Homo sapiens: one gene and its partner. The protein of the gene in region 1 purifies or fractionates together with the protein of each later gene. This does not show direct contact. Each region holds a gene or a part of one and is shown in the gene's direction. Other genes may lie near its edges.

Region 1 (5,427 bases):
GAGCTGGGTCTGGGGATGAGAAACGGCTAACCCTGGGCCACAGCAAGCTGGACCTCATCACCAAGTATCATCAGTTGCACGGGGCCAGGCAGGGAACTGAGCCTGGGGGTCCCAAGGGTGGCCATCTCAATGGTGGTAACAGTGACCTGGTCAGGGATGAGAAACGGCTGACCCTGGGTCACAGCAAACTGGACCTCATCACTAAGTACAACAAGTCCAAGTTCAAGCAGCTCCGAAGCCGCTTTGAGTCCTAGCCAAAGGACTGGCATCGGGGGTGCACTGGCAAGGGCAGGCCCCTCCTCTGTCCACCGAGACTCTGGACTTGCTCAGGTCCCAGACTGGGGAAGGGAGGTGTCTAGAAACCCAGGTCAGACACACTCTCTGGGCTCAAGATTCTTGTGTACACACACACACACACACACACACACACACACCCTAACTAGTATCTTCTTGAATCTAGGCTGTGTTTCCAGCCCTGTGCTGGGCCTGTAGAGCTGACAGGTGGGTCACACTCAGACCTGGGGACAGAGGTGAAATGCACAAGCTGCTGGAGAAGGGGTCAGAGCCATATCAAGTTAAAGGTTAACCAGTTACAGAGGGTGTTAGAAAACAAAGGGCAGAGAGTCCTGGAGAAGGTGGAGTAGTCAGAAAACTTTCTTAGAGGAGATGGAGGTGGCCTTTGAGCCAGGCCCTGAAGGATGGGGAGGTTTTGGACAGAGGGAGGAGAGAGTTAGAAAAATTTTTGGTAGAGAGAATCAGGTGAAAGAGATGCCCTAAAGAGGACTGAGTGGGTCTGAGGTGAATGAGTGAGGAAGAGCAGAGTATGTGGATACCCGGAAACACACACACACACACATCATCATTATCATCATCATCATTGTCGTCGTCATCATCTTGCTGAGTCATCATCATCATCATCATCATTGTCGTCGTCATCATCTTGCTGAGTGTCTCTTGAAGTACAGGCTGTGACAGGTTGTGGGCCATTTTCCTGAACTCACCACTTACCCGGGATAGTAAACATGATACACATCAATAAAGGCAGACTTTATTGTGAATCACAGCGCCTGGTGTATCCTGAACTTTGAGGAGTTATGGGAGGGACACGTTGGGGGAATGGGAAGGGCACCATTCAGGCCAATTATGGGGAAACCCCTGGAGGAGGGTGAATGCCGAAGGAGGAATTGGGGGAGTCCAGGGGCTCCAAGTTACCACTGTGACATTTTGAGAGAACCCGGGGCTTTTGCAGATTCTACAAAATGTGGGCCAAGTTCATCCTGTCCAAGTGTGCAGCAGGGCCCTTGGCCCCCATCACTATCCTGGGGACAGAAGTTGGCTGCTGAGTGAGTGATAGAGGCCGTGCGAGAGGCACATCGTGGAAGCCAACCAGCACCCACATCCTTGCCCACCCTGGACCCCTTTCCAGCCTTTTCCTGAGCCCCTGCTTCCTCAGTCCTCCCCTCTCTCCAGCACCTGCAGCCTGGCTGCCTTTCCGTCTCTGGCTGCGCTCTTTCTCCAGCCTCGGTCTGGCCGCACTTCTGCCTCCTGGAACTCTCTCCATGGGTAGCCTCTTCTAGTCCACCCGTCTTCAGCCCCTCATCTCATTCGTCAGCACTCCACTCCCCTGCTGGGCTCCAGACATGGACTTCTGTCCCTCAAGGCACAGCTGGACTCATCCCTTTCCCCAAACCTGCCCTTCCTCCGGCTTCATTTCCATCAATACCTCCATCATCAACCCTTCCGCGAGACACTCCTGGCCCCTCCTCTCCCTCATGCCTCACAACCGACCAGCCGGAGGTCTAGGTCGATGACAGCTCCTAAAAAGCTCCTGAATGAATAATGAATGAATGAACGCGAGCAGGCTAGGCGTGGGGCCAGGCGGGGTCGCGCCCAGACCGCTCGCGACCATAGAGTCCGCCGGAGGCCGGAGGTAGAGGGGCTGGATGCGTGGCGGGGAGCGCCGGGCTCTCCCGGAAGTCTCCCTGGACGGAAGTGGAAACGGAAACCTTTTTAGGGAGTCCAAGGTACAGTCGCCGCGTGCGGAGCTTGTTACTGGTTACTTGGTAAGCTGGTGTGAGGGGAACCTGGGAGGGTCAGCTCCGGTCCTGGGTCGGGAGGGGTGGGGGCCAGAGGATTCAGGGCCGGAGGTTCTGGTGGGGGCCCAGTGGGCGGGACCCGAGGACGGAGGGGCCGGGAGGCCGAGAGGGGCGGGGTCGCGGCGGGGCCTGAGGGACGGAGGCCGGGATACTTGGGAAAGGATCCGCCGGCCTTGAACTCCCGCCTCCGCCGCCCCTAGGCCTCATGGCGGTCCGAGCTTCGTTCGAGAACAACTGTGAGATCGGCTGCTTTGCCAAGCTCACCAACACCTACTGTCTGGTAGCGATCGGAGGCTCAGAGAACTTCTACAGGTGCGGCGGGAGCCCCGGGGCTTACGGTGGCGGGGAGGCGTGCGCAGGAGTCAAGAGCTCCGGCAGTGGGAGGGTGCCGGCCCCTCTGCCCCGCCACCACCGAGTCCATGTCCCTACAGTGTGTTCGAGGGCGAGCTCTCCGATACCATCCCCGTGGTGCACGCGTCTATCGCCGGCTGCCGCATCATCGGGCGCATGTGTGTGGGTAAGGCAGGTGGAGGACGCCGAGGGAGGGAGTGGTCTCCAAGCACCATTAATTACACCCCCGGAGGGAACCCGGAGTGACCTAGGGATTCCCAGGGTATCATCTGTTATCTCTGGGCACTATAGAATCTCTCAGGCCAAGCGTCAGGAGATCGGGGCAACCCTCTAGCAAAGGCTGCTGGATAATAGTAATAACAAATAATGTAAAGTGCTTTCACTCCTGTTCTCATTCCTTCGTCACAAAGACACTAGAAGGTAGGAGTTACTGGCCTAACTTGACTGATGAGGAAGTTGAGACTTGACCTAAGTGACTCAGTAAGTTCCACACCTAGTTCCTAGTGTTGGAGAAGGATTTTTCTCTTTTTTTTTTTTTTTTGAGGCCAGATTTTTGCTCTTTCGCCCAGGCTGGAGTGCAGTGGCAAGATCACAGCTGTCTGCATCCTCAACTTCTTAGGCTCAAGTGATCCTCCCACCTCAGCCTACCAGGTAGCTAGGGCCACAGGCACGTGCCACCACACCTGGCTAATTTTTACATTTTTGGTAGAGACGCGGCCTCCCTGTGTTGCCCAGCCTGGCCTTGATCTCCTGGGCTCAAGTGATCTTCTTACCTTGGTCTCTTAAAGTGTTGGGATTATAGGCGAGAGCCACTATACCCAGCCGAGGATTTGTATCTCATCTCTCCCTGCCACTGACTGGGCAAGGTGCTTTCTCTTTCTAAGCATCCATTTCTGTCTCTGTAAAGATTAGCTAAGATATGCGGTCTTCCTGCTCAGTTACGTTGGAATCTTAAATTCCCTTTACCACATCTCTACCCTACCTTCCTACCTGTCAGCACTGTTAATTCTGGTCGTTGGTCCTTTCCTTTTTATTATTATTATTATTTTTTTTTGAGATGGAGTTTTCGCTCTTGTTGCCCAGGCTGGAGTGCAATGGCACGATCTTGGCTCACTGCAACACTCTCTTCAAGTGATTCTCCTGCCTCAGCCTCCCAAGTAGCTGGGATTACAGGCGCATCCCGCCACACCCGGCTAATTTTTTTGTATTTTTAGTAGAGATGGAGTTTCACCATGTTGGCCAGGCTGGTCTTGAACTCCTGACCTCAGGTGATCCTCCCACCTCGGCCTCCCAAAGTGCTGGGATTACAGGCGTGAGCCACTGCGCCCGGCCGGTCCTTTCATTAAGCTGGATCTGTCTTCCATTACTGCTGCCCATTGTTTCTTAGTTCTGCTCATTGAGGTCACTTTTAGAAGTCTGTTTATTTTATTTTTTTACTTTTACTTTAATTTTTAAAAATCTTAAGCCTGCTTGGGAGGTCGAGGCAGGTGGATCACCTGAGGTCAGCAGTTCGAGACTAACCTGACCAACATGGAGAAACCCCGTCTCTACTAAAAATACAGAAATTAGCCGGGTGTGGTGGCGCATACCTATAATCCCAGCTACTTGGGAGGCTGAGGCGGGAGAATTGCTTGAACCCTGGAGGTGGAGCTCACCCTGCGGTGAGCTGAGATTGTGCCATTGCATTTCAGCCTGGGCAATAAGAGTGAAACTGTGTCTCAAAAAAAAACAAAAAACAAAAAACAACAACAACAAAAACTTAAGCCTAGTGACCTCAAAGTATTTTCCTATTCAGTTAAAATACTCTGATCTCTAACCATGCCCTTAGGACTTGAAGCAAGTTCTGACAACAAGGGAGATTTTAGCTTAGTCCTTGTGTATTTTATGATGGGAGTGACCTGGAATTCAGAAATTGATTGGCGTGTATTTGTAGATTGTTCATTCTTGTTGCTGTATGGTGTGTTTTGTGTAAGTATATCACAACGTATTCATCCATTCCATCGACAGTGCATTTGGGCAGTTTTCACTTTGGTCTGTTAGGAATAGTGCTGCTGGCCGGGCATGGTGGCTCACGCCTGTAATCCCAGCACTCTGGGAGGCCGAGGCGGGCGGATCACGAGGTCGGGAGATCGAGACCATCCTGGTTAACACGGTGAAACCCCGTGTCTACTAAAAATACAAAAAAATTAGCCAGGTGTGGTGGCGGGTGCCTGTAGTCCCAGCTACTTGGGAGGTTGAGGCAGGAGAATGGTGTGAACCGGGGAGGTAGAACTTGCAGTGAGCCGAGATTGTGCCACTGCACTCCAGCCTGGGCAACAGAACAAGACTCCGTCTCAAAAAAAAAAAAAAAAGTAATAGTGCTGCTATGTTTTTTTAGTGAACACATGTACATATTTCTACTGGGTATATGATACCTAAGAGTGGCATGGCAGAGTCACAGGTTATGTGACTATTTAGTAGTAGTTGCAGATGATGCCAGATAATTATCTAAAGTGATTGACCAACTTACACTCCTGTCTCAGTATGAGAGTTCAGTTGCTCCATATATCTTTGCCAACACTTGGAATTGATGACTTGTAAAAATTTTAGTCATTCTGGCTGGGGGCAGTGGCTCACACCTGTAATCGTAGCACTTTGGGAGGTCGAGGTGGGCGGATCACCTGAGGTTAGGAGTTCGAGACCAGCCTGGCCAACATAGTGAGACCCCATCTCTACAAAATCACAAAAAGTTAGCCAGGTGTGGTGGCACGCACTTGTAATTCCAGCTACTCAGGAGGCCGAAGCAGGAGAATCACCTGAACCCAGGATGCAGAAGTTGCAGTGAGCTGAGATCGCACCACTGCGCTCCAGCCTGGGTGACAGAGTGAGACTCTGCCTTAAAAAATAATAATCTAGCCATTCTGCTATGTGTGTAGTGTTAGCTCAGTTTTTTTTGTTTTTTTGTTTTTTTTTTTTGGAGACGGAGTTTCGCTCTGTCACC
Region 2 (4,835 bases), on another chromosome or scaffold:
AACAGTGTCTGGCAGCTGACATGTGCTACATATGTGTAGCTGTCACTGTTGATGTCTTTTTCCTGTTCCTAGCACCTGTTCCCTAGCCTGTTGTGAAAAACACAACAAACAAAAGCTCCATTCAGTCTAATGTTCCACTCTTAAGTACATCACCTTCAGAGCCAAAATTCTTGAAAAGTAATCTTAAGTCATGGTTTCTACTTCCTGTCCTCCTATTCATTCTTCAGACACTCTTATCTGACTTTTACACCACTAAAATTCGGACACTGAGTGATAGGGTCACCAACATACTTGTTACTAAATACAGTGTACACTTTTCAAGGCTTCTGACAATATTAGTAACTTTATGGCACTCAATGTAAAGAAAATGAGAAATTAAACCTATGGGGCATTCCTTTTATTAGGGCAATGGGAAAAAGCAGACCACCTGCCCTTTCATCAAATAAATGTGATCTCTAGCTGATTCGTGTCTTAGAAGACCTAATGGATATGGAGGAGAAGCAGTTATTTTTATCCTTGAAAGAGGTTATTATCTAATGGCAGGATTCACTCTTTAAATGGATAATCACATCAATAGCTCTGCAGTTGTAACTGTGGCTTCTTGGGATTCTCCAGAGACACTTGAGGTGTCCTGAGGATAGAGACTTCTTGTTCTTAGTAAAGGGACTACCCATAGTGTTCGGTGGAGCCAGTCCCTAGGATCATAGAACAAAGGGCAGGGGGTTCTCTTTTTTCCCCTTCTCTCTTGCTAATGTGATAGGTGTAAGTGGCCCTCAAGCATTGCCTAGCTTCACTAATGGTCAAGACTGACAAGTGTTCTGGAAACTCATGAGTTTTAGATGAAACAATGCTGTGGGCCAGCAGAGAAGCAAGGCTTGGCTCCAGCCTAATTGTGTAGAAAACAAATGAAAATGCTTTATTTCATGAGGTTTATCTCTTCTGGATTTGTATTATATTGAGAATCTGATAAAAGAAAATGACTTAATCTGGTACAAAGAAATTTCAATCTGTTCAGAATCTGAAAAGAGGAACAGAGTCGAGGTAAAGCGAAATGAACAAGGTCACACAGTATTTAAGATACAATGCTTTCCAAGATGATGGTGGTAAAACTGTGACAGTATTTAAAATACAATGCTTTCTAAGATGGCGGTGGTAAAACAAAGTTTTGCTTTTGAAAAGTGAAAAGATAAATGAGGCCTACATCCCAAGACTTGGTTTTATACTCTTGGTATTATACTAAATATAACATTTAAATATTTTTTCTTTTAAAATAGCAAACGGATGTTTCAGAAGACAGCAATGATGATATGGATGAAGATGAGGTTTTTGGTTTCATAAGCCTTTTAAATTTAACTGAAAGAAAGGTTGGTTTCACTGGATGGCATCTGAATGGTTATTTCTTAGGCCAAAACCACTTTTATTTAATGCATGGTGAAAATGTCTTTTATGTTAAACAGTGATATTAACTATAGGGATAAGTGCTCTTGTGAAATCTTATTGTAATCCTTTTTCAATATGAAGGTGGTGGTGTTGGGTCTGTACCCAGTTAAAGTTGTTTACTCCCTGTGGTTTAGGGAATCATCTGGCTTTGCAGTCCTGATGTTGGTACTGATGCAGGAGCTGTTTGTGCTGTCTCTCTGCAGCTGTTATCTTTGCTACTTGTGTAGTGGGGATATTCTCAGGCTTTGCTGCCTCAATGTTGAGGGCATTTACTGACATTTTATTTTGTTTCGATTCATCTCTTTTTATTGATTCTCTGATGAGTTGTAATAAAAAGTAAACCAGCTGCTTACCCACCTCAGAATAAGATGCAGGCTACACTTAGTCTTTAATTTTGAAATAAACTGTCCAGTTACTTCCATCTATCTTTATGAGATGGACTAGAGTTGCCATTCCAGTGTGTCTGAATGTTAATTATGACTCTCTTACCACTCATCATGGGATGGTAAATAACCAGTGTATTTACTTTTGAGAAATGCTTAAGCAGTCAACACTGAAGACATACAAGACGTTAAGGCTATGGCAGGAAACTGCCCTTAGCTGTAAGATGAAAAGTGATAGCTTTTACTCTCAGGTTTTGTCCTCTATGTGATGGCTTGTAATAGGAAACAAGCTTTCTCTTTGCTTTCTAGGGTACCCAGTGTGTTGAACAAATTCAAGAGTTGGTTCTACGCTTCTGTGAGAAGAACTGTGAAAAGAGCATGGTTGAACAGCTGGACAAGTTTTTAAATGACACCACCAAGCCTGTGGGCCTTCTCCTAAGTGAAAGATTCATTAATGTCCCTCCACAGATCGCTCTGCCCATGTACCAGCAGCTTCAGTAAGAGATTCTGGGAAAATATCTTTGAACAGTAATTTTTTTTTCAAATAGATTCCTAAATGTCATTTAAGTAGAATATGTAGATATAGAAAGAGTTCTGTCCTTGGTTTAAGTGGGTTTAGTGTGAGGGGAGTGGAAGAAACATCCTGTGAAGTACATACATTATTAACAACTGGCTTTTTGAAGAGTTTGTGACAATAATCATGAAATTTTAACTTAAGATTTAAGTGATATATAAGTAGATAATTTCATATAGACTTTGCATCCCCATTTGATTGAAGTTTTTCACCTTCACAGATAGCTTTCTGCAACATGAATAAAATAATGAACAATTACAACAATAACAAAACTGGTAAAGTTCCCAAATTCTATTGGTATGTTTCATAACAAATGAAACCATAGTCCTGATACTGTGGCTAGCTTTTCAGGGTTTTTGTTATTCTATTTTTTAATCCAGAAGTTTTAAGTTTACAAAAATATTTCAAATGTAGCTGTGAAATCTAGCAAACTGAGTGTACTAAGAATTGTATTGTCTGTGCTTTGCAACAGAGGACAAAATATAGGCAGATTCTCTTATTTATTTCTATCTAATTTAAATTTTTTTTTTTTTTTGGTAGAGACAGGGTCTTGCTACATTGCCCAGGCTGGTCTTGAACTCCTAGGCTAAAGTGATCTTCCTGCCTCGGCCTCCCAGTGTTGGGATTACAGGTGTCAGTCACAGCACTTGACCTAGACAGGTTCTTTATAGAATATTCTTTCTCAGAGGTCATAGCCCTTGCGTTGTGGTTTTCCTTTAAATAGCTGTAGGAATGCAACTCTACTCTGGAAACCTTTACGTTTGCTGTTTTTTCCTAGGGATTCGATGCTTCTTATCTCCTGCTCCCTGCTCTCTCAGCTGTAGCTCAGATTGTGCTTCTGGTGCCTTAAGTGGTTTTTGTTTTTTTTTGGTTTTCTTTTTTTCTGATCAGCTGGAGCTCACATTTATTTGGTTTTATAGGAGGGTGATTTGCTTTCTCCTAGTCCTGTTAAAGCTGAAGTGAGCCAAGCGCAGTGGTGCACGCCTGTAGTCGCAGCTACTCAGGAGGCTGAGGCAGGGGGAATGCTTGAGGCCAGGAGTTCCAGGCTGCAATATACTATGATTGTGCCTGTGAATAGCCACTGCACGCCAGCCTGGGCAAAATTACAAGACCCTATCTTTTTTTTTTTCTTTTTTTTTTTTTGAAAAGGCCAGGTGTGGTGGCTGACACTTGTAATTCCAACACTTTGGGAGGCCGAAGCTGGCAGATCACTTGAGGCTAGGAGTTTGAGACCAGCCTGGCCAACATGGCGAAACCCCAATTCTACTAAAAATACACCCACAAAAAATTAGCCGGGTATGGTGGTGCAGACCTGTAATCCCAGCTACTCAGGAGGCTTAGGCACGAAAATCGTGTGAACCTGGCAGGCAGAGGTTGCAGTGAGCCGAGATTGTGCCATTGTACTCTACAGCCTGGGCAACAGAGTGAGATTTTGTCTCCAAACGAAAAAAAGAAAAAAAAAAAAAAGGAAAGCTGAAGAGGACGGTTGTTCTGAGTTTCTTCTTTTGTTCAAGGGCATCCAGATGCACAAGGCTATGTTTAATTTTCAGAAAGAAGAAACATTAAGGCTTTGTTGCGATTCCATTGCTAGAATTTAGGTTGTGTGTTTATGCAGTTTCTGCAGTATGTCAGAAATTAGTTCCAGACTCTAGCAATTAGAGACTGTGGTAGTAGTCACAGGCTGTAGTGACATTGGTTGTGGCTGTATACCTTTGTGTGTTTCAGTTAAATGTTCATTGCTTTAAAAAATTCAAAAATTCAGATTCGTATATATTTTTAACTTATGCACAGGCAGAGCAGTGATACATTGAGTGAATTTGAGACTCATCTGATCTGTTAGTTGCTATATATCCACAAATCAGCATAATCTGAGAGATATATCATAGTATTATAAAAAGTAATACATAATCTAAAATGCAACTGATTATGTAAATAAAAATCATTCCTGTAGACTAAGTGTTCAGATTGAATGCCTGCGTCACAGCAGAACCCACTGAAGATGCCTCACCGGGTTTTCTGTGCTCTGGTTTGTTGATGGATTTCACTTGACCCAGCAGGTAAACAAATGTTGTGTGTGTGCCTTGCAGGAAAGAACTGGCGGGGGCACACAGAACCAATAAGCCATGTGGGAAGTGCTACTTTTACCTTCTGATTAGTAAGACATTTGTGGAAGCAGGAAAAAACAATTCCAAAAAGAAACCTAGCAACAAAAAGAAAGCTGCGTTAATGTTTGCAAATGCAGAGGAAGAATTTTTCTATGAGGTAAGACTATCCTGCTTATTTGTTTAGATGTAAATAAGGATTTTCTTGAAAATGATTTATCAAGATTTATTGTTCTCCCACTTTAGGTCCAAGTCTTTCAAGTGTGGCTACTCTGTTTTTCTGTTTCCCCACAGGACCTAGCAGCTAACATAGTGCCAGGTGCATAGTAGGTACTC

What was found. The genes of interacting proteins can lie anywhere in the genome.
Region 2: the proteins of EIF6 (region 1) and BCCIP purify together in Homo sapiens (affinity purification with mass spectrometry; 5 studies listed by BioGRID and IntAct, with this or other methods). This does not show direct contact.

What each region holds. Positions count from the first base shown.
Region 1 is NC_000020.11:35,281,362-35,286,788, reverse strand, and holds the start of EIF6 (eukaryotic translation initiation factor 6), read left to right. Parts: upstream 1-2,016; 5' UTR 2,017-2,063; intron 2,064-2,071; exon of another isoform or gene 2,072-2,296; 5' UTR 2,297-2,301; coding exon 2,302-2,408; coding exon of another isoform or gene 2,409-2,527; coding exon 2,528-2,613; intron 2,614-5,427. Other genes in the region: protein FAM83C, read left to right, coding at 1-254. UniProt on the Homo sapiens protein: Binds to the 60S ribosomal subunit and prevents its association with the 40S ribosomal subunit to form the 80S initiation complex in the cytoplasm. Behaves as a stimulatory translation initiation factor downstream insulin/growth factors.
Region 2 is NC_000010.11:125,829,288-125,834,122, forward strand, and holds part of BCCIP (BRCA2 and CDKN1A-interacting protein), read left to right. Parts: intron 1-1,274; coding exon 1,275-1,364; intron 1,365-2,132; coding exon 2,133-2,320; intron 2,321-4,484; coding exon 4,485-4,659; intron 4,660-4,835. UniProt on the Homo sapiens protein: During interphase, required for microtubule organizing and anchoring activities. During mitosis, required for the organization and stabilization of the spindle pole.